Homo sapiens: one gene and its partners. Each later gene encodes a partner of the first gene's protein in a complex. Each region holds a gene or a part of one and is shown on either strand. Other genes may lie near its edges.

Region 1 (5,971 bases):
AATCCTGAGTTAATCTCTGAGCTTTGTCTCACTGACTTTGATCAACTGTTTTAGATAATGAGATTATGTATTACAGAGTACTGTATGTTACATCTTTCATATATGACTCATTGTTGAAATTAAATTGAGTATGGGCTCACATACATTAAACAGATTAACAGACTGGAAAGGAGCCATACTGTCTAAGTACTTCACTTATTTTTCTGATTTTATTGAGTTTTACATATAATTTATAATTAATCTCAGGTGATCATTTATTCAGCAAACATTTCTTGAACTCCTGGGTGCCAGACATAGGTCTAGGTGCCGGGGACAAACAAAACAATGAAAACAGAATCCCTGCTTTTAGTCTAAATAATGTATTAGTGGTAATAAGTGATATGAAGAAAAGTAAGGTGAAGAGCTGGAAAATGTTAGTGGTTGGGGAGGTAGTGTGCTCCTTCATAAACTGTGATCAGGAAAGGCCTTTTGGATGAAGTGACTTTTGATCAGAGACCTAAGTTGAGCGTGAGAGGAGTGAGCCTTGTGACTGTCTGGGGGAAGAATCTTCCAGGCAGGAAAAATGCAAAAGCCCCAGGTTGGTGGGAGTGTGCCAGTGTGGCTGGAGCAGAGTGAGCAAGGGAGGGGGGCAGGTGGGATATGAGGTCAGAAGGGTAGCAGGAGGGCAGGTCTTGTTCAGCCATGGTAAAGGGTTTGGCTTGACTCCTGGTGAAATGGAAAGTCTTGGGTGTGGGGGCGGTTTAAGCAGAGAAATGATAGGATCTGATGTATATTTTTAAAGGATCATTAAGTCTGGTGTGGTGAATAGACTCTTGGGGGAAGAGGGAACAAAGGTGGGCATAGAGAGACCAGTTAGGAGGCACTGAGAGGAGGGGAGGGATGGTAGAGTTTTAGAATAGAGGAGGAGGTTGAAATGGTTGTTTTGGAGAATGGAAGCGAGAATAGAGAAATGTAATAGGATTGCCATGCAGCAGGAAGGGCTCAGTTGAGGTTAGTGATACATTATAGCAAGATGTTTTGTTTCTTTCCTATCTTGTTCAGCTGCTTGACAGCAGGTGCAATTTGTCTGTAGGAATCTGTAGATGAGTTCAGCAAGGAGGGAGTGGTAGATGGAATGATCTGATAGAATGAGTTTCAGTGGGGCTATGGAGTTTTAGGGATGAGCGAGATAGAAGCAGCAATGAAGAGCAATAACTCATATTACCAAACCTCCAGGGTTAAGGTAGTGTGTGAGAGAGAAACAGTAAAGCAGTTGAGGTATTTACAGAAGCAGTGTCTTCAGGGGCTAGCTAAGTTTCCCTTAGAGTAGAGGTGGTCATCTATAGCCCTTATGCCAAAACTGGTTTGTTTGTTTTTTTTAAGTTTTATTGGAACACAGCCAAGCCCATTTGTTTACATAATGTTACCTGTTGTCACATATTGTCTGTGGGCACCTTCTAGCTACATGTGGGGTTGGGTACTTGTCACGCCTACAAAGCCTCAAGTATCTGGCCCTTCACAAAAAAAGTTTGCTGACCCCTATGTAAGAGCAAGAAAGTAAAAGGAACAATTAAAACAGTCTCAGAATTGGTAAATAAACTGATGTTTTTCTTTATCTTGGATTGTTAGAACCCTTACAGTTCATTTATGTGACATAAATATACAAATGATTTAGAATGACATAGTTACATTGGGTCTTTTTTGCAGATCGTGATACTGTAAATGAAAAACTTGCTATGTCATTTTAAGGTTTCTCTTTCAGGTGTTGACCAACCATAAAGATAAGGATGTGTCCTTCCTAGACACTTAATAGTAGCTACAGAGTATAAAACTTTTCCCAATTGCCTTTAATTTTGGTTACTGTGTTCATTTTCTCATAACATCCTGATGATTTGTTTTGACCATATTTGGCCTTGTTTATTTTAAGAACATTTCATTTGATTTTGAGACAATAGAAAGTAAGCTTTGCTTAAAAGAAAAGAACTTCAGTTTTACTCTATTGCCCTGGACTAGAATCATAACAGTATGAGACCTTGAAGAAGTCATGCAAGTCCTCTTTTTTTTTTTTTTTTTTTTTTTTTTTTGAGATTGAGTCTCTGGGCTCACTGCAAGCTCCACCTCCCAGGTTTACGTCATTCTCCTGCCTCAGCCTCCCGAGTAGCTGGGACTACAGGCACCCACTACCATGCCCGGCTAATTTTTTTGTATTTTTAGTAGAGACGGGGTTTCACTGTGTTAGCCAGGATGGTCTCGATCTCCTGACCTCGTGATCCGCCCGCCTTGGCCTCCCAAAGTGCTGGGATTACACTTGAGCCACCACACCCAGCCATGCAAGTCCTCTTATCCAGACTTTGCTTGACAGCAAAGTGACTTTCCCAAGTGGTCATCTGCCATTGGATGGGAAATTTGCTCTAATTATGTCTTGGATGTTTGGTCTCTCAGTAGGGTGTTAAGTCATGTAATTTACTGATCAAATTAGGACACTCAAGAATGGAAAGGGTGGTATTAATAATGATGGGACACCACGTGTAAATCAGGACTGTTCCAAGCATGCTGGGATGGATGTGTGGTCTCCTAAACATGAGCTTTGGGCAAATTACTAAATGTTTCTGTACCTCAGGTACCAAATATTACGTTCTACTTATATTACAGGACTGTTGCAAGTTTGAGGGAGAGCATATATTTAAAAAGCCATTTTCATAAAGCAGAAAGCACTGTGCACATGTACCATTTCATTATCCTTTCTTTCTCCTTTAGAAATTTAAGATCCGCATTGAAGACCCACCCCGCAGAAAGCACATGGTATTCCTGGGTGGTGCAGTTCTAGCGGATATCATGAAAGACAAAGACAACTTTTGGATGACCCGACAAGAGTACCAAGAAAAGGGTGTCCGTGTGCTAGAGAAACTTGGTGTGACTGTTCGATAAACTCCAAAGCTTGTTCCCGTCATACCCGTAATGCTTTCTTTTTTCCTTTATTGCCAATCTTTGAACTCATTCAACTCCAGGACATGGAAGAGGCCTCTCTCTGCCCTTTGACTGGAAAGGTCAAGTTTTATTCTGGTGTCTTGGGGAAGCTTTGTTAAATTTTTGTTAATGTGGGTAAATCTGAGTTTAATTCAACTGCTTCCCTACATAGACTAGAGGGCTAAGGATTCTGTCTGCTGCTTTGTTTCTTCTAAGTAGGCATTTAGATCATTCCTATAGGCTTCCTATTTTCACTTTACTGCTCTAATGCTGCTAGTCGTAGTCTTTAGCACACTAGGTGGTATGCCTTTATTAGCATAAAACAAAAAAAACTTTAACAGGAGCTTTTACATATTACTGGGATGGGGGGTGGTTCGGGATGGGTGGGCAGCTGCTGAACCCTTTAGGGCATTTCCTCTGTAATGTGGCGCTTTCAACTGTACTGCTGCAGCTTTAAGTACCTTAAAGCTTCTCCTGTGAACTTCTTAGGGAAATGTTAGGTTCAGAACTAAAGTGTTTTGGGTGGGTTTTGTTGCGGGGGGGAGGGTAACAATGGGTGGTCTTCTGATTTTTATTTTTGAGGTTTTGTCAACTGGAGTACGTAGAGGAACTTTATTTACAGTACTTTGATTTGGCAGGTTTTCTTCTACTTGTGCTCTGCCTGGAGCTGTTTCCATATGATATAAAAAGCAAGTGTAGTATTCCATTACTATGTGGCTTAGGGATTTATTTGTTTTTTAAAATCAACCATGTTAGCTGGGATTAGACTCCCTACAGTCCTTCAATGGAAAAGTAACATTTAAAAATCCTTTGGGTAATTCGAATTACAGATTTAAAAGAGCTTAAGATCTGGTGTTTTGTTAATGCTTCTGTTTATTCCAGAAGCATTAAGGTAACCCATTGCCAAGTATCATTCTTGCAAATTATTCTTTTATATAACTGACCAGTGCTTAATAAAACAAGCAGGTACTTACAAATAATTACTGGCAGTAGGTTATAATTGGTGGTTTAAAAATAACATTGGAATACAGGACTTGTTGCCAATTGGGTAATTTTCATTAGTTGTTTTGTTTGTTTTGATTTGAAACCTGGAAATACAGTAAAATTTGACTGTTTAAAATGTTGGCCAAAAAAATCAAGATTTAATTTTTTTATTTGTACTGAAAAACTAATCATAACTGTTAATTCTCAGCCATCTTTGAAGCTTGAAAGAAGAGTCTTTGGTATTTTGTAAACGTTAGCAGACTTTCCTGCCAGTGTCAGAAAATCCTATTTATGAATCCTGTCGGTATTCCTTGGTATCTGAAAAAAATACCAAATAGTACCATACATGAGTTATTTCTAAGTTTGAAAAATAAAAAGAAATTGCATCACACTAATTACAAAATACAAGTTCTGGAAAAAATATTTTTCTTCATTTTAAAACTTTTTTTTAACTAATAATAGCTTTGAAAGAAGAGGCTTAATTTGGGGGTGGTAACTAAAATCAAAAGAAATGATTGACTTGAGGGTCTCTGTTTGGTAAGAATACATCATTAGCTTAAATAAGCAGCAGAAGGTTAGTTTTAATTATGTAGCTTCTGTTAATATTAAGTGTTTTTTGTCTGTTTTACCTCAATTTGAACAGATAAGTTTGCCTGCATGCTGGACATGCCTCAGAACCCTGAATAGCCCGTACTAGATCTTGGGAACATGGATCTTAGAGTCACTTTGGAATAAGTTCTTATATAAATACCCCCAGCCTTTTGAGAACGGGGCTTGTTAAAGGACGCGTATGTAGGGCCCGTACCTACTGGCAGTTGGGTTCAGGGAAATGGGATTGACTTGGCCTTCAGGCTCCTTTGGTCATAATTTTAAAATATGGGAGTAGAAAACAACAAAGAATGGAATGGACTCTTAAAACAATGAAAGAGCATTTATCGTTTGTCCCTTGAATGTAGAATTTGTTTTTGATTTCATAATTCTGCTGGTAAATGTGACAGTTAAAATGGTGCATTATGTATATATATTATAATTTAGAAATACCATTTTATAATTTTACTATTCCAGGGTGACATAATGCATTTAAATTTGGGATTTGGGTGGAGTATTATGTTTAACTGGAGTTGTCAAGTATGAGTCCCTCAGGAAAAAAAAAAAATTCTGTTTTAAAAAGCAATCTGATTCTTAGCTCTTGAAACTATTGCTACTTAAATTTCCAATAATTAAAAATTTAAAATTTTTAAATTAGAATTGCCAATACTTCTACATTTGAGAAGGGTTTTTTTAGAAATACATTTAGTAAAGTCCCCAAGACATTAGTCTTACATTTAAACTTTTTTCTTTAAAACATGGTTTTGGTGGTTAACTTTTACACAGTTCTGAGTACTGTTAATATCTGGAAAGTATCTTGAGATATCAGTGGAAAGCTAAACAGTCTAAATTAACATGAAATACTTCATTTTGATTGAGAAAATAAAATCAGATTTTTTCAAAGTCAATTTGAATTTTGTCATTTCTTTCTAATAGTTATTTCTTGTTTCATTTTCTTGTTAATGCAAGATGAATTGACAGTTTATGCTAGTTGTTAGGTCAAGTTCATGTCAGTGTTCTATTATTGACAAAACAACTCATTATTTCTGGTATGATTTTATAAATACATAAGAAAATAGAATAGCGATTTATAGCTACATCAGAGGCTGTTTTCTTCCAACAAACTGTTTTGTCTCCCAAAAGATTTAAGGTGGCTTTCACAGAATTAGAAATGCTAAAGAGACCTGTATGTAACATGCCCCCTTTCAAGGACATATTAGCTCATCTGCAGACTTTTAGGCATATTATTTTTAACAAATAAAAGAAGGATGAAAATACATTTAACTGACCTTTTCTTGTTTTATACTAGCCTTGAGGATGAGGGCTGGAGAGTAGAGAGAGTATTTTTGCCTTTCCTTCTTCGTGGACTTGTATGTGCAAACCTCATTGCCCGCTTCAGGGCCGGAGTCCCAGACAGCGAACGTAAGGGTTGTCTCTGGTGTTTTATCTAGTT
Region 2 (5,486 bases), on another chromosome or scaffold:
TTTCCTTGACATTCTCTCTTGGAGAAGTAATTGCTCCCCATCTGTTATTGTACATGAATTTACTCTCTTCTCTATTATAGCTTGTTTACTATTGAATTTTATTCATTGCTTGTGTATCTTACCTAGAATCTAGATCCCACAGGATAAGGATTGTATTTTAAATATTTTAAGCAGCCCTTAGCATGTAAATACTTGCCTGAATGACAGTGAAACTGTGCTTTCACGTGCGAAATACTTTGGGTAGTTTGTCTTAAGAAAACACCCTCAAGTCCTGAGAAAACCAACCAAGTCAATATATTAGGATAAGACTTCCATATGGGGACCAACTAATCTCTTCTAGTTTACATTTGAAGCAGCAATTGTTGAAAAGAAAAATATGAATATTTTAAAATAAAAAAACTAAAATTTAAAATCATAAAAACATCCAAGAACACTTCATGAAATTTCTATTTTTAAATTTTGGAGCCAGGAAAATCTAAGTATGACTTGAACTCTAAATGCCATAAGAAAAGATTAATAAACTCAATTAGATAAAAATAAAAATAACCTTTTTATTTATAGTAAAAGCTATTATAAAGCGAAACTCAAAATGCAAGAAATATTTGACATTCCTGTTGAAAAGAGCTCCTACAAATCAGTAAGAAAAAGACCATCAAAAGGGCAAAGAAAATATAGAAATACAAAAATATAGAAAAGAAAATACAACTGGCTATTAGGCATGTGAAAAGATGTGCAATCTCATTTACATTAAGAGAAATGCAAATATATGATACCATTTTTAAAACATCAGATTTGAAAAGATTAAAAAATGTTTTATGACAAACACATAGAATAGGTAAAGGGGTGGGAAAACATGCATTCTTCTACACGGCTGGAGAAAGTATAATTGATAAAACCTTTAAGAAAGGCAATTTAGCAATATCTCCCTTAAATGCCCTCCAACTGACCTTAACTTTCACTTTTAGGAATTGATCTACAAATAGGCTTGAACATATGTAAAATGACTTGTGTATAATGCTATTCACTGTAGCACTGTTTGTAACTGCAAAAGATCAGAAACCACCTAAATCAATAGGGAAATGGTTAAGTAAATTATGGTACATTTATTTATATAATAGAATTATTATGCAGTCATAAAAATAAAATTGTTATCGGAAAGTGGTCCCAATCCAGACCCCAAGTGAGCGTTCTTGGATCTCACACAAGAAAGAATTCAAGGCCAGTCTGTAAAGTTAAAGCAAGTTTATTAAGAAAGTAAAGGAATAAAGAATGGCTACTCCATAGGCAGAGCAGCCCCGAGGGCTGCTGGTTGCCCATTTTAACGGTTATTTCTTGATGATATGCTAAACAAGGGGTGTATTATTCATGCCTCCCCTTTTTAGACCATATAGGATAACTTCCTGATGTTGCCATGGCATTTGTAAACTGTCATGGTGCCGGTGGGAGCGTAGCGGTGAGGATGGCCAGAGGCAGAGGTCACTTTCATTGCCATCTTGGATTTGGTGGGTTTTGGCCAGCTTCTTTACTGCAAACTGTTTTATCAGCAAGGTCTTTATGACCGGTATCTTGTGTTGACCTCCTATCTCATCCTGTGACTTAGAATGCCTTAACCATCTGGGAATGCAGCCCAGTAGGTCTCAGCCTTATTTTACCCAGCTTCTATTCAAGAAGGAATTGCTCTGGTTCAAATGCCTCTGAAGGGAATAAGGAAGTTCTTTATGTATTGATAGGAAATTACCACCAAAATATACTGTTAATGAAAAAAGCAAGGAACAGAACACTATATATAGTATGTTAGTATTTATGTACACAAAGGGGTAAAATCTTATATAGGTATTTGCCTGTAAATGCATACACTGTATCTGGAAGGATGCCTAAGAATTAAGTGACAATAGTTGGTTGTCAAAAGAGGAACTAGGGTGGAATGGAAAATTACCACAGTACATATTTCTTACCTTTTGAATATTGAACAATATGAACAAATTATTTGAAAACGAATAAAAACTAAAATGAATAAAATACAGAACCATTGGCTAATGAATACACTGACCTTTAACTTAGCAAATTGAAGAAAATCTTAGTTGCCCTGGCATCTTGATTCAATTTTTGGAGAAACAAAAGGAAGTATGATGTTATTCAGAGGCATTGGCCATTTAAGTTATTCATTACCCTAAGGGTTGACAGAATTAGAAAAATCTACGTATAAAGTCAAGGACGGTGATATAAATTCATGGATATAATTTAATGGTTATCTTTAAGGAAAACAAGGGGTATTGGGTCACATCTCTGCTCTTAGAAGGTGATGCCACAGAATAATGAACAGATCATATAAACTCCCATAGTGCCACTGTTAGCCAGATATGAGCTGGAATTCTGTTCCTCAGCCACTTTCTCTGGTGACTTCTGGCAAAGCTAAACACTATAGGGGCTGCACGTGGTACTCATGGTGGCTCTGATTTCCACCTAAGGCTGATAAATTCCCTTCTTAACTGTCCACATTGAAGTGAATTGAAATTCTTTGTGACTAAACTTGATTGGCTCTAGGGTATTTGAACCCAAGAATTATTTTACTCTTTGTATAGTTCTCAATTTGTACTTCTGATGTGTTGCCCTATTCAGGTACCCTAAGAACCTGTGTATAAATTAAGGATTTCTTAGGTGACTTGGCTCGTTCAATGTTATGCAACCAAGAGATATTTGTTGAACATCAACTATGCCAAGTGAATGTGGGGATGAGTAAGAGCCAGCTACTATGACTTCAGGGGGCCCATACAGTCTAGCAGCAAGGTCAAGAGGGTGTGTCTTGCAGAGCAGGAGCTAACTGCTAGGCTGGAAAATACGGGAGTTTTAGAATGCTTTGGAATTCAGGTGGGTCATACACTACTCAATTTGTGTTTCATGTGGTGTGGATTCTAGGGAACTGTTTCAGAGAGAAATAAGAGATGTAAACATAGATTATTTATGTTGATTACTCTTACACACTCAAGTAACAGAAATGATAAAGGAAAATAGAAATGTTAAAGTGAATGCTGTGTCCCATGTTGCTTGTGGTTGGATCATCAATGTGGTGAAGTAGCACCACCTTGAGGCAGATGACATGCTGTACCTCTGTGGGCTTCCCGGGCCTCCTCCATATCTGGAATCATACAAGAGGCACCTGCACAGAACGTTTTCACATTGGGGTTTTCACATATTGTACTAGTGACATTGGGGTGAGGGGGAGAGGGAGTGGGGCAGAGGTCCCGCGGCAGGAATATGGACAGAAGCAGCCTTGTTTAAGGGCACTTGGTTCTACAGAGGCCGTTGGTCTGTTCCTTAATTGGGTGTGTTTTTCAATTATTTTGGTGCTTTTAACATATTTTGTCTGTAAGGGGATGTTAGTTGTAAATCTAAAGGAAAAATTGTGTATCTAAAAATTAATCAATCTGGCTGGGCGCGGTGGTCACGCCTGTAATCCCAGTGCTTTGGGAGGCGGAGGAGGGTGGATCACCTGAGGTCAGGAGTTCAAGACCAGCCTGGGCAACATGGTGAAACCCCATCTCTCCTAAAAATACAAAAATTAGCTGGGCACGGTGATGCGTGCCTGTAATCCGAGCTACTCAGGAGGCTGAGGCAGGAGAATCGCTTGAGCCTGGGAGGTGGAGGCTGCAGTGAGCCGAGATTGTGCCATTGCACTCCAGCCTGAGCAACAGAGCAAGACTCCATCTCAAAAAAAAAAAATTAATTAATTAATTTTCTTTTTTACCTTTATACATGGGGTTAAACTAAGTGATCATCAATGTCTATTTCAGCTAATAAAACATTATGATTTCCTATAATTTTACTTTCTTGAATCTATCACGGAGATAGTTTCTGATCCTGTTAATAATTTGCACCATCTAGAATTCTTATGTTAAAAACATTAAAACTGCAGCTGGGCGCGGTGGCTCACGCATGTAATCCCAGCACTTTGGGAGGCCGAGGTGGGCGGATCACGAGGTCAGGAGATCGAGACCATCCTGGCTAACACGGTGAATGAAACCCCGTCTCTACTAAAAATACAAAAAATTAGCCGGGCGTGGTGGCGGGCGCCTGTAGTCCCAGCTACTTGGGAGGCTGAGGCAGGAGAATGGCGTGAACCCAGGAGGCAGAGCTTGCAGTGAGCCGAGATCGCGCCACTGCACTCCCGCCTGGGCCACAGAGCGAGACTCTGTCTCAAAAAAAACAAAACAAAACAAAACAAAACAAAACAAAACAAAAAACATTAAAACTGCAAGAACAGTGACTATTAAACCCACTTTTAACTTTCTCTTTCTACTCTGTTCATTTCACTTGGACCGTTTGTCCTTTCTGCCCCTCCAAAGGATTAGTTCAAATTAATGTCTCACTTTAAATACTCTGATCCACCCTGATTTTGTTGTTCTCCCAACATTGACTAACTGCATTTACAGTCAAATGCTAAATTGTATGACGTTAATTCTCTTTTTTTTTGTATGACATAATTTTCAGGTGCTTAACCTTACTTCCCAATTAGGCTGAGAGCAAACTGGTGAACAAGATTCAGACCTTATTCTTCTGTTATGTCCTCATGATCCTGGGATCCACAGGAAATGCTTTAAAAAGAATTCGGTTAATTTGTACCATCTACACATTGATTTCACCCATGTTCATGTCCTTAAAATATCATCATACTTGTCATCAAGTATGACTGTTACCGAAATGGTGCTGTTACCCAATGACCAAGAAGGGGTATGTTTTCCATTTCTTCCCTTTTGTAAAATGCCAAAAAAGAAACCAAATAGTAAAAGCACTGAGATTAAAGGAGGAGAATGGGAGGTAAACAACTACTTTTGTGCTAAAAGTGTCCTATGGCATTTATATATATTTTTTCCGCAATTAATCCTATTCCCAACTCTTCACCAAGGATAGTACTGTGTCATGGTTACTATACCCTGGGCTGACATTTAGTCAGGAGGCAACAGTTGAACCAGTTGTTTCCAGCTAGTATCCATTTTGACTCGGTCTCTATATTATACTACTTGTTAAATATTTTTAGTATCTCCCCTCAGTAAAGCTGATAGACTGGCAGATTCTAAATACACCCACCCATTCTTGTGAACAAATATGAACTCCAGAATTTTTCCAAACGCTTCAGTTATGAAAGTGATGTTAAGAAGGATTTTATGAAAAAGCATTCAGTATCATTTGATTTTAAAGTTTGTAATTGGTTATGCTATACCTACTTGACTACCTCTAATACCTATTGGCTAAGGCACAGTGGCATGTGCCTGTAGTTCCACCTTTTCGGGAGGCTGAGGCAGGACTGCTTGAAGCCAGGAGTTTGAGGCCTCAGTGCACTATGATCACACCTGTGAACAGCCACTGCACTCCAGCCTGGGCAGCATAGCAAGTCCCCATCTCTAAGTAATATTTAAGAATAATACCTATTGCTTAGCTTATCTTCACCCATAGGACCCTGAATTGCCTGGAAGTGTTTTAAAGTGGGA
Region 3 (3,635 bases), on another chromosome or scaffold:
AGGTCGAGGCTTCTGAACTGAGCTATGGTCGTACCTCTGCACTTCAGCCTCGGCGACACAAAACCTGTCTCAAAAAAAAAAAAAAAAGAGCCAGGCCCGGTGGCTCACACCTGTAATCCCAGCAATTTGGGAGGCCAAGGAGGGCAGATCACCTGAGGTCAGGGGTTCAAGACCAACCTGGCCAACATGGCAAAACCCCATCTCTACTAAAAATACAAAAATTAGCCGGGTGTGGTGGTGGGCGCCCATGGTCCCAGCTGCTCGGGAGGCTGAGGCAGGAGAATTGCTTGAACCCAGAGGCAGAAGTTGCAGTGAGCCAAGGGTGAGCCACCGAGACTCCATCTCAAAAACAGAAAAAAAAAGATATTTACTTCTTGCTCACATTTTATGTCCAGTGTGGGTGTTGTGAGGTGCTCTGATGGAAGCTGTCCCCAGCATGCTGTCCCAGATGCCACGAGGGAGCCGGAACCTGCGGAATCATGCCCTGGGTCTTAACATTTCTGCCCACATTTTATTGGCAGGTGCAATGGCAAGGCCACGCCTAATGCAAAGGGCGAGAGTTCGGGGTGTGCGGTTCCTCCAGGTGTCCAGGAAGGGCACTGCTCTCCCTCCCCTCCGCCCACATCTGTCAAGTCCCTTTTCACCCCTCTGCAAACATAATGGGGGTGCCAGGGCCAGGTCAGGCTTGCTTTTTGCCTAGAAAAGCAAACAGCTGCAGGGGTCTCCCCTAGAGCAGGTGTAACTGGCTGGGCAGGACAGAAGGCGCCTGAGCTCCCAGGGAGTCCCAACGCTGGCCTTGCTGGGGGAGGTGGCAGCCCCCAGCATCACCCCCGGTTTTGATACACCTGCAATTCGGGCCTCCCTCGCTGTGGCCCGTCTGTATCCTTGAGCTGGCATCTGCCTCCCGGGCGGCCAGACGCCCGCCTGGCCTTCCCTCCGGCCTCGGTTTCCCCTCCGCGGCGCTCCAATGGCCCCCGCCCTCCGCGCAGGGCCACGACTGCTTCCCGGTGCTGTTCACCTATGACGCCGCCGCGGGGATGCTGAGCTTCGGCGGGCGGCTGGACGTTCCTAAGCAGAGCTCGCAGCGTGGCTTGACGGCCCGCGAGCGCTTCCAGAACCTGGACAAGAAGGCGAGCTCCGAGGGTGGCACGGCTGCGGGCGCGGGCCTAGACTCGCTGCACAAGAACAGCGTCAGGTGAGAGCGGGAGCCGGGCCGGCGGGTGGGCGGGGCCTCGGCTCGCCCAGAAACAGCGTCGGGTGAGGAAGGGGCCTGGAGTCTTCCTCCTGGGGCATTGTGCTGGGACCTTGAGGACTGGGGACCCGGAGGGAGGGTAGGCGTGCCCTCAACTCGCTGCGCCGGAACGGCGTCTGATGAGCGGCGGGCCCGGACACGAGGGGACGGGGCCGATTTGTGGGCGGGGCCTTGGCGCCGTACTAAAACCGCGTGGGGCGGAGGCCGGCAGAGGTCGCGTAGCGGGCCCAGGGTAGGGAGTGGCTTTGACTCGCTGCGGAATAACATCGTTAGTTGTGGGCGGGGCCCATCTTGATCTCACCATAGCAGCCCAGGTGCTAGTGGAGCCTGGGAGGGACACGGTGCGACCGACATAAGACGGGGTCGACCTCTTTAGGTTGCATAAAAATAGCATCAGATGGGGCTGAGCAGCTAGCCTCGCTCTGCATTTCCGGGACTTAGGTGGGGACTGTCGTAGGGCTGGCCCCTACGGTTCTCTGGGGTGGCCAGGCAGTGACCAGCGGGCTTCCTGGGCGGGGTCACAGCTGGGGCGGGTCTATTGCTAGCACTTAGCGAGGTGGGGGCGGAGCTGAGGGTCTCTCCGCAGCCTTCTATGGATCTAGGGTGGGATGGGGAAGAGGCTCTTCAAAGCCCAAAAGCTGCCAGCCACACGTGTCCACCCCGCGGCGAATCAGAGGGAGCGGGAGCTGTATGGCAAGACTGGCCAAGCCCTTCGGTCTGTAAAACCTCCTGTGTCCGCCAGATCCGATGGCTTCCTCAGATGAAACACCTTTGTCCAGCTATCAGCTTAGTCCCTGGCTGCCCCCACCCCCATCTCCTTTTTTGTCCTGTCCAGCTGCACTGCTGGCACTGTGTACACTCCGCAGACACACGTGTCTTTCCTGCCTCCCAGGACTTGAGTGTCCTGTCCCATTTGCCTGCACCTCGCATGCCACTGTCCCCAAGGCAGAACTGACTTCTAAGCCCACTACACCCCCTCGGTACTTCTCACTAAAGCCCGCTCCCCAAGAAGTCTGGGAGCGCCTGGTGGACAGGGTGGGCCTGAGCCCAGCGCCAGCACAGGTTGAATTCATAAGCTCCTCTTCCTCTTTGCAGCCAGATCTCGGTGCTCAGCGGCGGCAAGGCCAAGTGCTCGCAGTTCTGCACCACTGGCATGGATGGCGGCATGAGTATCTGGGATGTGAAGGTGAGGCTTGCCCCTCCTGGCTTCCCGCCATGCCTCCCAGGTCAACCCTTTCCCCCCATCCCCACTCCCTGGAGATGACCCCCATCCTTCACTCCTGCAGAGATGGCACTGCATGGGGATGAGGGGTGGGGGCGGCCCCTTGACATCTGGGCCTTGGTGCTCACTGGGGCACCCGTCTTCAGGGCCGGGATTCCAACCCAGCTGACAGACTCCAAAACTGCAGGTTCTCTGCCCTCTGCTGTGCTGGGGCTGAGATGGGTGATCAGGTCCCTGGGAGTGGGGTGCCTGCAGGACAGCTGAGAACCAGCCTGTCCGTTCTGCCTCCCTGCAGAGCTTGGAGTCAGCCTTGAAGGACCTCAAGATCAAATGACCTGTGAGGAATATGTTGCCTTCATCCTAGCTGCTGGGGAAGCGGGGAGAGGGGTCAGGGAGGCTAATGGTTGCTTTGCTGAATGTTTCTGGGGTACCAATACGAGTTCCCATAGGGGCTGCTCCCTCAAAAAGGGAGGGGACAGATGGGGAGCTTTTCTTACCTATTCAAGGAATACGTGCCTTTTTCTTAAATGCTTTCATTTATTGAAAAAAAAAAAAAATGCCCCCAAAGCACTATGCTGGTCATGAACTGCTTCAAAATGTGGAGGTAATAAAATGCAACTGTGTAAAAAAAAAAAAAAAAAAAAAAGTAATTATGGACATGCTTGCCTATGTGGAAGGAGAGGTTTTTTGTTATTTCCTTGGGGTCTTGCTAAGTTTTCCAGGCTGCACTAGAACTCGTGGGAGCAATCCTTCTGCCTCAGCCTCCCAAGTAGCTGGGACTCCAGGGAGAGATTGGTGTTTGCACGGCCATAGGTAGATAGCTTATTTTTACTGCTTGCCAACAAAATTGATCCTGAAGCCCAACGGCCTTATGCCAAATGGTTCCCTCCCCACTGCTGTCCATCCTGGGCTGCCACTCCCAAAACTGCCAGTACCAGGTGTCACTGATTGACTAGTCAAATTCCTGGACAAAGGGGCTACACACTCCAGGCTGGTTGTGGAACTTTTGTTTTGAGATGGAGTTTTGCTCGTCACCCAGGCTGGAGTGCAGTTGTGCGTTCTCAGCTCACTGCCACCTCTGCCTTCCTGGGATCAAGCGATTCTCCTGCCTCAGCCTCCCAAGTAGCTGGGATTACAGGCATACACCACCAAGCCTGGTTA
Region 4 (6,063 bases), on another chromosome or scaffold:
ATTGTGGATGAAGCCATCTATTACTTCAAGGCCAATGTCTTCTTCAAAAACTATGAAATTAAGGTAAATTACGGAGCTTTTAATATTTAACTTAGTTTTCTCATAGGGATAATACCAACCTTGCTATCCAGATTGCTGTGAGGAGAAAATAAAATGAAATCAGCATGTAATTTTTAAATTCGAGAGCAGTGCTTAATGTTAGCTTTTGTATAAATATTAGTTTCTTTTTTTTTCCTCCAAATTCTATACCAGGGGTTGGCAAACTCTAACCTGAGGGCCACATTTGGCCCACTGCCCCTTTTTATGAATAAACCTTTATTGGAACACAGCCACAACCATTTGTTTCTATATTATCTATAGTTACTTTCACACCAAAACAGCAGAATTGAGTAGTTGTGACAAAGACTGTATGGCCCACAAAACCTAAAAATACTGCCTGCCTTTTACAGAGAAAGTTTGCCAACCCCTTGCTAGAAGTATCTTTATTTATTCAACATTAGTTAAGCAGCACCTACTATGTGCCAGCCTTTTGTTTTGTTTTGAGACAGGGTCTTGCTCCGTCGCCCAGGCTAGAGTGCAGTGGCACAATCACAGCTCACTATACCGTCAACCTCCTGGGCTCAGACAGTCCTCCTGCCTCAGCCTCCCAGGTAGCTGGAACTACAGGCATGCACCACCACACCTGGCTAATTTTTTGTATTTTTAGTAGAGACGGGGTTTCACAATGTTAGGCAGGATGGTGTCTCGATCTCCTGACCTCATGATCCGCTCACCTCAGCCTCTCAGTGTGCTGGGATTACAGGCGTGAGCCACCGCTCCCGGCCCTAAAATGGAATTTCAGCCCCTCCTTGCCAAACTCTGAACTTCTGGAATCAAACAGGTTGTGAATTATTTATTTGTAGACTCTTGGTGTACAAATTGTAGTCTAAACATTCTGTGATGGTAATAGAATGTTTTCTATATCTCATGTGTGGGTTAAGTTTGTAACAGTTATAAATGTTACAATTCTCTGGGCACATTGCTTGAGTTCAGGAGTTCGAGACCAGCCTGGGCAACATGGCGAACCCCCGTCTCTACAAAAAATAGAAAAATTAGTGCATGGTGGCTCACGCCTGTAATCCCAACACTTGGGAGGCTGAGGCGGGTGGATCACATGATGCCAGGAGTTTGAGACCAGCCTGGCCAACAAAGCGAAACCCCATCTCTACCAAAAATACAAAAATTAGCCAGGTGTAGTAGTGCATGCCTGTAATCCCAGCTACTCGGGAGGCTGAAGCACAAGAATTGCTTGAACCCAGGAGGTGATGGTTGCAGTGAGCCGAGATCACACCACTGCACCCAGCCTGGGCGACAGAGCAAGACTGTCTCAAAAAAAAAACAAAAAACTCTGCCACATTTCATTTGTTCCCAGATACTATATTGTCTTAAAAATAGGGAAATGTGGCTGGGCGCAGTGCCTCTGCCCGTAATTTGGGAGGCCAAGGCGGGCGGATCACCTGAGGTCGGGAGCTTGAGACCAGCCTGACCAACATGGGGAAACCCCGTCTCTACTAAAAATACAAAATTAACTGGGCGTGGTGGTGCGTGCCTGTAATCCCAGCTACTTGGGAGGCTGAGGCAGGAGAATCACTTGAACCCAGGAGGCAGAGGTTGCGGTGAGCCAATATCACGCCATTGCACTCCAGCCTGGGCAGCAAAAGTGAAACACTCAAAAAAAAAAAAATATATAGGAAAATGGTGTGGTTTGGGGGTAATTTTTTTGTTGTTTTTTTGTTTTGAGACAGAGTCCCGCTCTGTCACCAGGCTGGAGTGCAATGGCGTGATCTCGGCTCAGTGCAACCCTCGACTCCCGGGTTCAAGTGGTTCTCCTGCCTCAGCCTCCCAAGTAGCTGGGATTACAGGCACGCGCCACCACGCCAAGCTAATTTTTGTATTTTTTGGTAGGGACAGGGTTTCACCACGTTGGCCAGGATGGTCTCGATCTCCTGAGCTCGTGATACACCCACCTTGGACTTCCAAAGTGTTGGGATTACAGGTGTGGGCCACCGCACCCGGCCTTTTTTTTTTTTTTTTTAATTCGAGACAGAGTCTTGCTCTGTTGCCCAGGCTGCAGTGCAGTGGTACAGTCTTGACTCATTACAACCTCTGCCTCCTGGCTTCAAGCGATTCTGTGGCCTTAGCCTCCCTAGCAGCTGGGATTACAGGCGCACGCCACCATGACTGGCTAATTTTTGTATTTTTAGTAGAGACGGTGTTTCGCCATGTTGCCCAGGCTGGTCTCAAACTCCTGGGCTCAAGCAATCCACCCACCTCAACCTCCCAAAGTGCTGGGATTACAGGCATAAGCCACTGCACCTGGCCTAAATTTGTGTAAAATTTGACCCAAAGTCCATACCACATTTGATCAACATTCATTTGTCTTCTCCACATTTTCTTTTTGGTTAGGTCAAGACATTGAGATTATGGAGTTCTTTGGGAGCAAGTCAAATGTGAAATAGTTGCTTCCTCCTTTAGAGTAATGACTATTTCTGTTCTCGGCAGAGACCCTGAAGGGAAGGGTTTTTAAAAATTAGCCAACCATATGGAGCAGTTCAGGCTTTCCAGGCAGCTTTGTTACTTCTTCCTATACAGTGAGGGGCTGTTGACACAGATCCTTGGGAACCCTGGGGCAAGGGGAGCCGAGAAAAACAAGAGAGAGCAGCCACTCAGCCGAGCGTGGTGGCTCATGCCTGTAATCCCAGCACTTTGGGAGGCTGAGGTGGACAGATCACTTGAGGTCAGGAGTTCGAGACCAACCTGGCCAACATGGTGAAACCCCGTCTCTACTAAAAATAGAAAAATTAGCCAGGCGTGGTGGCGGGCACCTGTAATCCCAGCTACTCGGGAGGCTGAGGCAGGAGAATTGCTTGAACCTGGGAGGTGGAGGTTGCAGTGAGCTGAGATTGTGCCACTGCACTCCAGCCTGGGCAACAGAGCAAGACTCCGTCTCAAAAAAAAAAAGCAGCTGCACATCTCAGAGTGGGGCTTGTGCCTTCCTCCCAGGGGCAGACGGAAAAGGAGACTGAGGAGACTGTGCATTTGGAGAATGGGAGTTTTGATGTGATAGTGGCTGTCCTACCACTGCATTCAGCAGATAATCAGAAGACAAAGATGGAATGCATACATTGCACATCATTGTTATGTTTTGATAACTGTTTTTAAGTCTTCTTTTTCTCCCTGTAGAATGAAGCTGATAGGACCTTGATATATATAACTCTCTACATTTCTGAATGTCTGAAGAAACTGCAAAAGGTAATTAAACTTGGATGATTGTATATCAGGAAAACAAATTGCTGAGAGGCATTTACCCTCCCAGTCATCTGGGATTTGTTGAGACTTTAAAGACAAGTAGAAAATATTTCCTCTGACTTACAGCATGGACTTAAGAGAAAAATTTGAATTTAGTTACCTGAACTTGTAGTATAATTGACTGACACAAAGATAAAAGTAGTGGTGTTTTAAGGCTTTGAATATATTTTCTCAAGACAGAAATCTTGACAGAGGAATTCCTTTTAAGCCCTTGACTCAAGGGTTCTTAACCTGGGGTCCAAGGATAGAATTCTTCTTTTCCCTGTAAAATATGTGTGTGTGTGTGTGTGTGTGTGTGTGTGTGTGTGTGTGTGTATATATATATATATATTTTTTTTTCCAGTGCAATTCCAAAAGCCAAGGTGAGAAAGAAATGTATACGCTGGGAATCACTAATTTTCCCATTCCTGGAGAGCCTGGTTTTCCACTTAACGCAATTTATGCCAAACCTGCAAACAAACAGGAAGATGGTAAGAACAGGTCTCTATCCTCACTCTGTGACACAAGAAGATTTTCTCCATTTGACTTCCTACCACCCCTCTTTTTCTTGCCTTGATTCATGTACAGATTGAGAGTGAAATCATAGGAAGTACATTATCTTATTAGTCACTCTCACAAACGATTCTTGGCAACAAGGATGACATGCAGAAAATCTTTTGAACAAAAACAAATATAGTTATAAAACTATCTGGACTGTCATTTCTATTTTGTATCCTGTTCAAATGTATAAAAATGTATTACCACAGTGAGCATCCAGAGCTGCAACCAGTACATTTGGGATGTATTTGCAAATACAGTTTTTTTTAAATTGTTCTGTTTTAGAAGTGATGAGAGCCTATTTACAACAGCTAAGGCAAGAGACTGGACTGAGACTTTGTGAGAAAGTTTTCGACCCTCAGAATGATAAACCCAGCAAGGTAAGACCCTCTTCTTGCCTGCTTAATTGGTAAATCACCTTTTATCCCATAGCCACCATTGAACACACTAAGGTCTTCCATTGCAAGAATATTTTTAATTTCTGCATTGCAATGTTGCTTAACTTCCAGTATATGTCTAGTATGTAATATGAGTTCACTGAATCACACTAAATAATGAATTGCAGGCCGGGCGCAGTGGCTCACGCCTGTAATCCCACCACTTTGGGAGGCCGAGGCGAGTGGATCACTTGCGGTCAGGAGTTCGAGACCAGCCTGGCCAACATGGTGAAACCCCCATCTCTACTGAAAATACAAAAAATTAGCCAGGCATGATGGTGTGCACCTGTCATCTCAGCTACTCAGGAGGCTGAGACAAGAGAGTCGCTTGAACCCAGGAAGTGGAGGTTGCAGTGAGCCAAGATCATGCCATTACACTCCAGCCTGAATGACAGAGTGAGACTTTGTCTAAAAAGGGTTTATGGCCAGGCGCGGTGGCTCACGCCTCTAATCCCAGCACTTTGGGAGGCCAAAGCAGGCGGATCATGAGGTCAGGAGATTGAGACCATCCTGGCTAACATGGTGAAACCCCGTCTCTACTAAAAAATACAAAAAATTAGCCAGGCGTGGTGGCAGGCGCCTGTAGTCCCAGCTACTGGGGAGGCTAAGGCAGGAGAATGGCATGAACCCAGGAGGCGGAGCTTGCAGTGAGCCAAGATCACACCACTGCACTCCAGCACTCCAGCCTGGGCGACAGAGCGAGACTCCGTCTCAAAAAAAAAAAAAAAAAGTTTATAAGAGATTCCAGACTAATGTGAAATTTTATTATTAAATAAATGCAAATTCTATTGTAATTTGACCCCGCTGTTCATTCTGTGTTGTTCTCTCTTGTTAGTGGTGGACTTGCTTTGTGAAGAGACAGTTCATGAACAAGAGTCTTTCAGGACCTGGACAGTGAAGGGAGCCCGGGCAGCCACCGTCTCCAGAGCCCTGGGCAGCATTTTCCAGCAAGATGTACACAATCTTTTGCCTTTATTTCGTAAAGTTTTATACAGAAGAGAGAAGAGCATGTCTTTACTTGAAAAACTCTTGATCAAGAATTTGGGTGGGAGAAAAGAAAGTGGGTTATCAAGGGTGATTTGAAATTTTCTGCAGCATTAAAGCTGGCGCTTAATAAGAATAAGTAATAATAAAGAAATTTCTAACATTCCATGTCAGAAAAACTTTATTGCCAGTCTTTGACATTCACTTACAATTTGTTTTGAGATAAAATTCACATTCCATAATGCCCTTTTAAAGTGTACAATTCACTTTTTTTAGTATATACATGAAGTTTTACAACCATCCCCAGTAAATCCAGAGCATTTTCATCACCCCGGTGTAGTGAACCTGCACTCTTTAGCAGCCACCCCACCCCACATTCCTCCCCAAGCCCCCTGTCCCTCCCACCCCTCCTCCCAGTATTAATCTACTTTCTGTCTCTATGGATTTGCTTATTCTGGATAATTCATGTAAATTGAATTTTTTATACAACATGTGGCCTTTTATGTCTAGCTTCTTTGACTTAATGTTTTCTAATTCATCCATGTTAGAGCATATATCAGTGCTTTCTTTTCTCTTTTTCTTTTTTTTCTCTCTGTGTATATGTATGAAATAAAATATACTAATATGGCCAGGCGCAGTGGATCACGCCTGTAATCCCAGCACTTTGGGAGGCCCAGGCGGGCAGATCACCTGAGGTCGGGAGTTTGAGACTAGCCTGACTAACACGGAGAAACCTGGTCTCTACTAAAAATACAAA

Evidence for each region.
Region 2: ACTR2 (region 1) and ARPC5 share a complex: the UniProt entries of both Homo sapiens proteins name them as parts of the arp2/3 complex.
Region 3: ACTR2 (region 1) and ARPC1B share a complex: the UniProt entries of both Homo sapiens proteins name them as parts of the arp2/3 complex.
Region 4: ACTR2 (region 1) and ARPC3 share a complex: the UniProt entries of both Homo sapiens proteins name them as parts of the arp2/3 complex.

The regions. Positions count from the first base shown.
Region 1 is NC_000002.12:65,265,828-65,271,798, forward strand, and holds the end of ACTR2 (actin-related protein 2), read left to right. Parts: intron 1-2,736; coding exon 2,737-2,907; 3' UTR 2,908-5,426; downstream 5,427-5,971. UniProt on the Homo sapiens protein: ATP-binding component of the Arp2/3 complex, a multiprotein complex that mediates actin polymerization upon stimulation by nucleation-promoting factor (NPF).
Region 2 is NC_000001.11:183,620,315-183,625,800, forward strand, and holds the end of ARPC5 (actin-related protein 2/3 complex subunit 5), read right to left. Parts: 3' UTR 532-5,486; downstream 1-531. UniProt on the Homo sapiens protein: Component of the Arp2/3 complex, a multiprotein complex that mediates actin polymerization upon stimulation by nucleation-promoting factor (NPF).
Region 3 is NC_000007.14:99,391,682-99,395,316, forward strand, and holds the end of ARPC1B (actin-related protein 2/3 complex subunit 1B), read left to right. Parts: intron 1-989; coding exon 990-1,195; intron 1,196-2,347; coding exon 2,348-2,438; intron 2,439-2,769; coding exon 2,770-2,808; 3' UTR 2,809-3,135; downstream 3,136-3,635. UniProt on the Homo sapiens protein: Component of the Arp2/3 complex, a multiprotein complex that mediates actin polymerization upon stimulation by nucleation-promoting factor (NPF).
Region 4 is NC_000012.12:110,434,312-110,440,374, reverse strand, and holds the end of ARPC3 (actin-related protein 2/3 complex subunit 3), read left to right. Parts: coding exon 1-63; intron 64-3,222; coding exon 3,223-3,291; intron 3,292-3,691; coding exon 3,692-3,818; intron 3,819-4,170; coding exon 4,171-4,265; intron 4,266-5,157; coding exon 5,158-5,220; 3' UTR 5,221-5,552; downstream 5,553-6,063. UniProt on the Homo sapiens protein: Component of the Arp2/3 complex, a multiprotein complex that mediates actin polymerization upon stimulation by nucleation-promoting factor (NPF).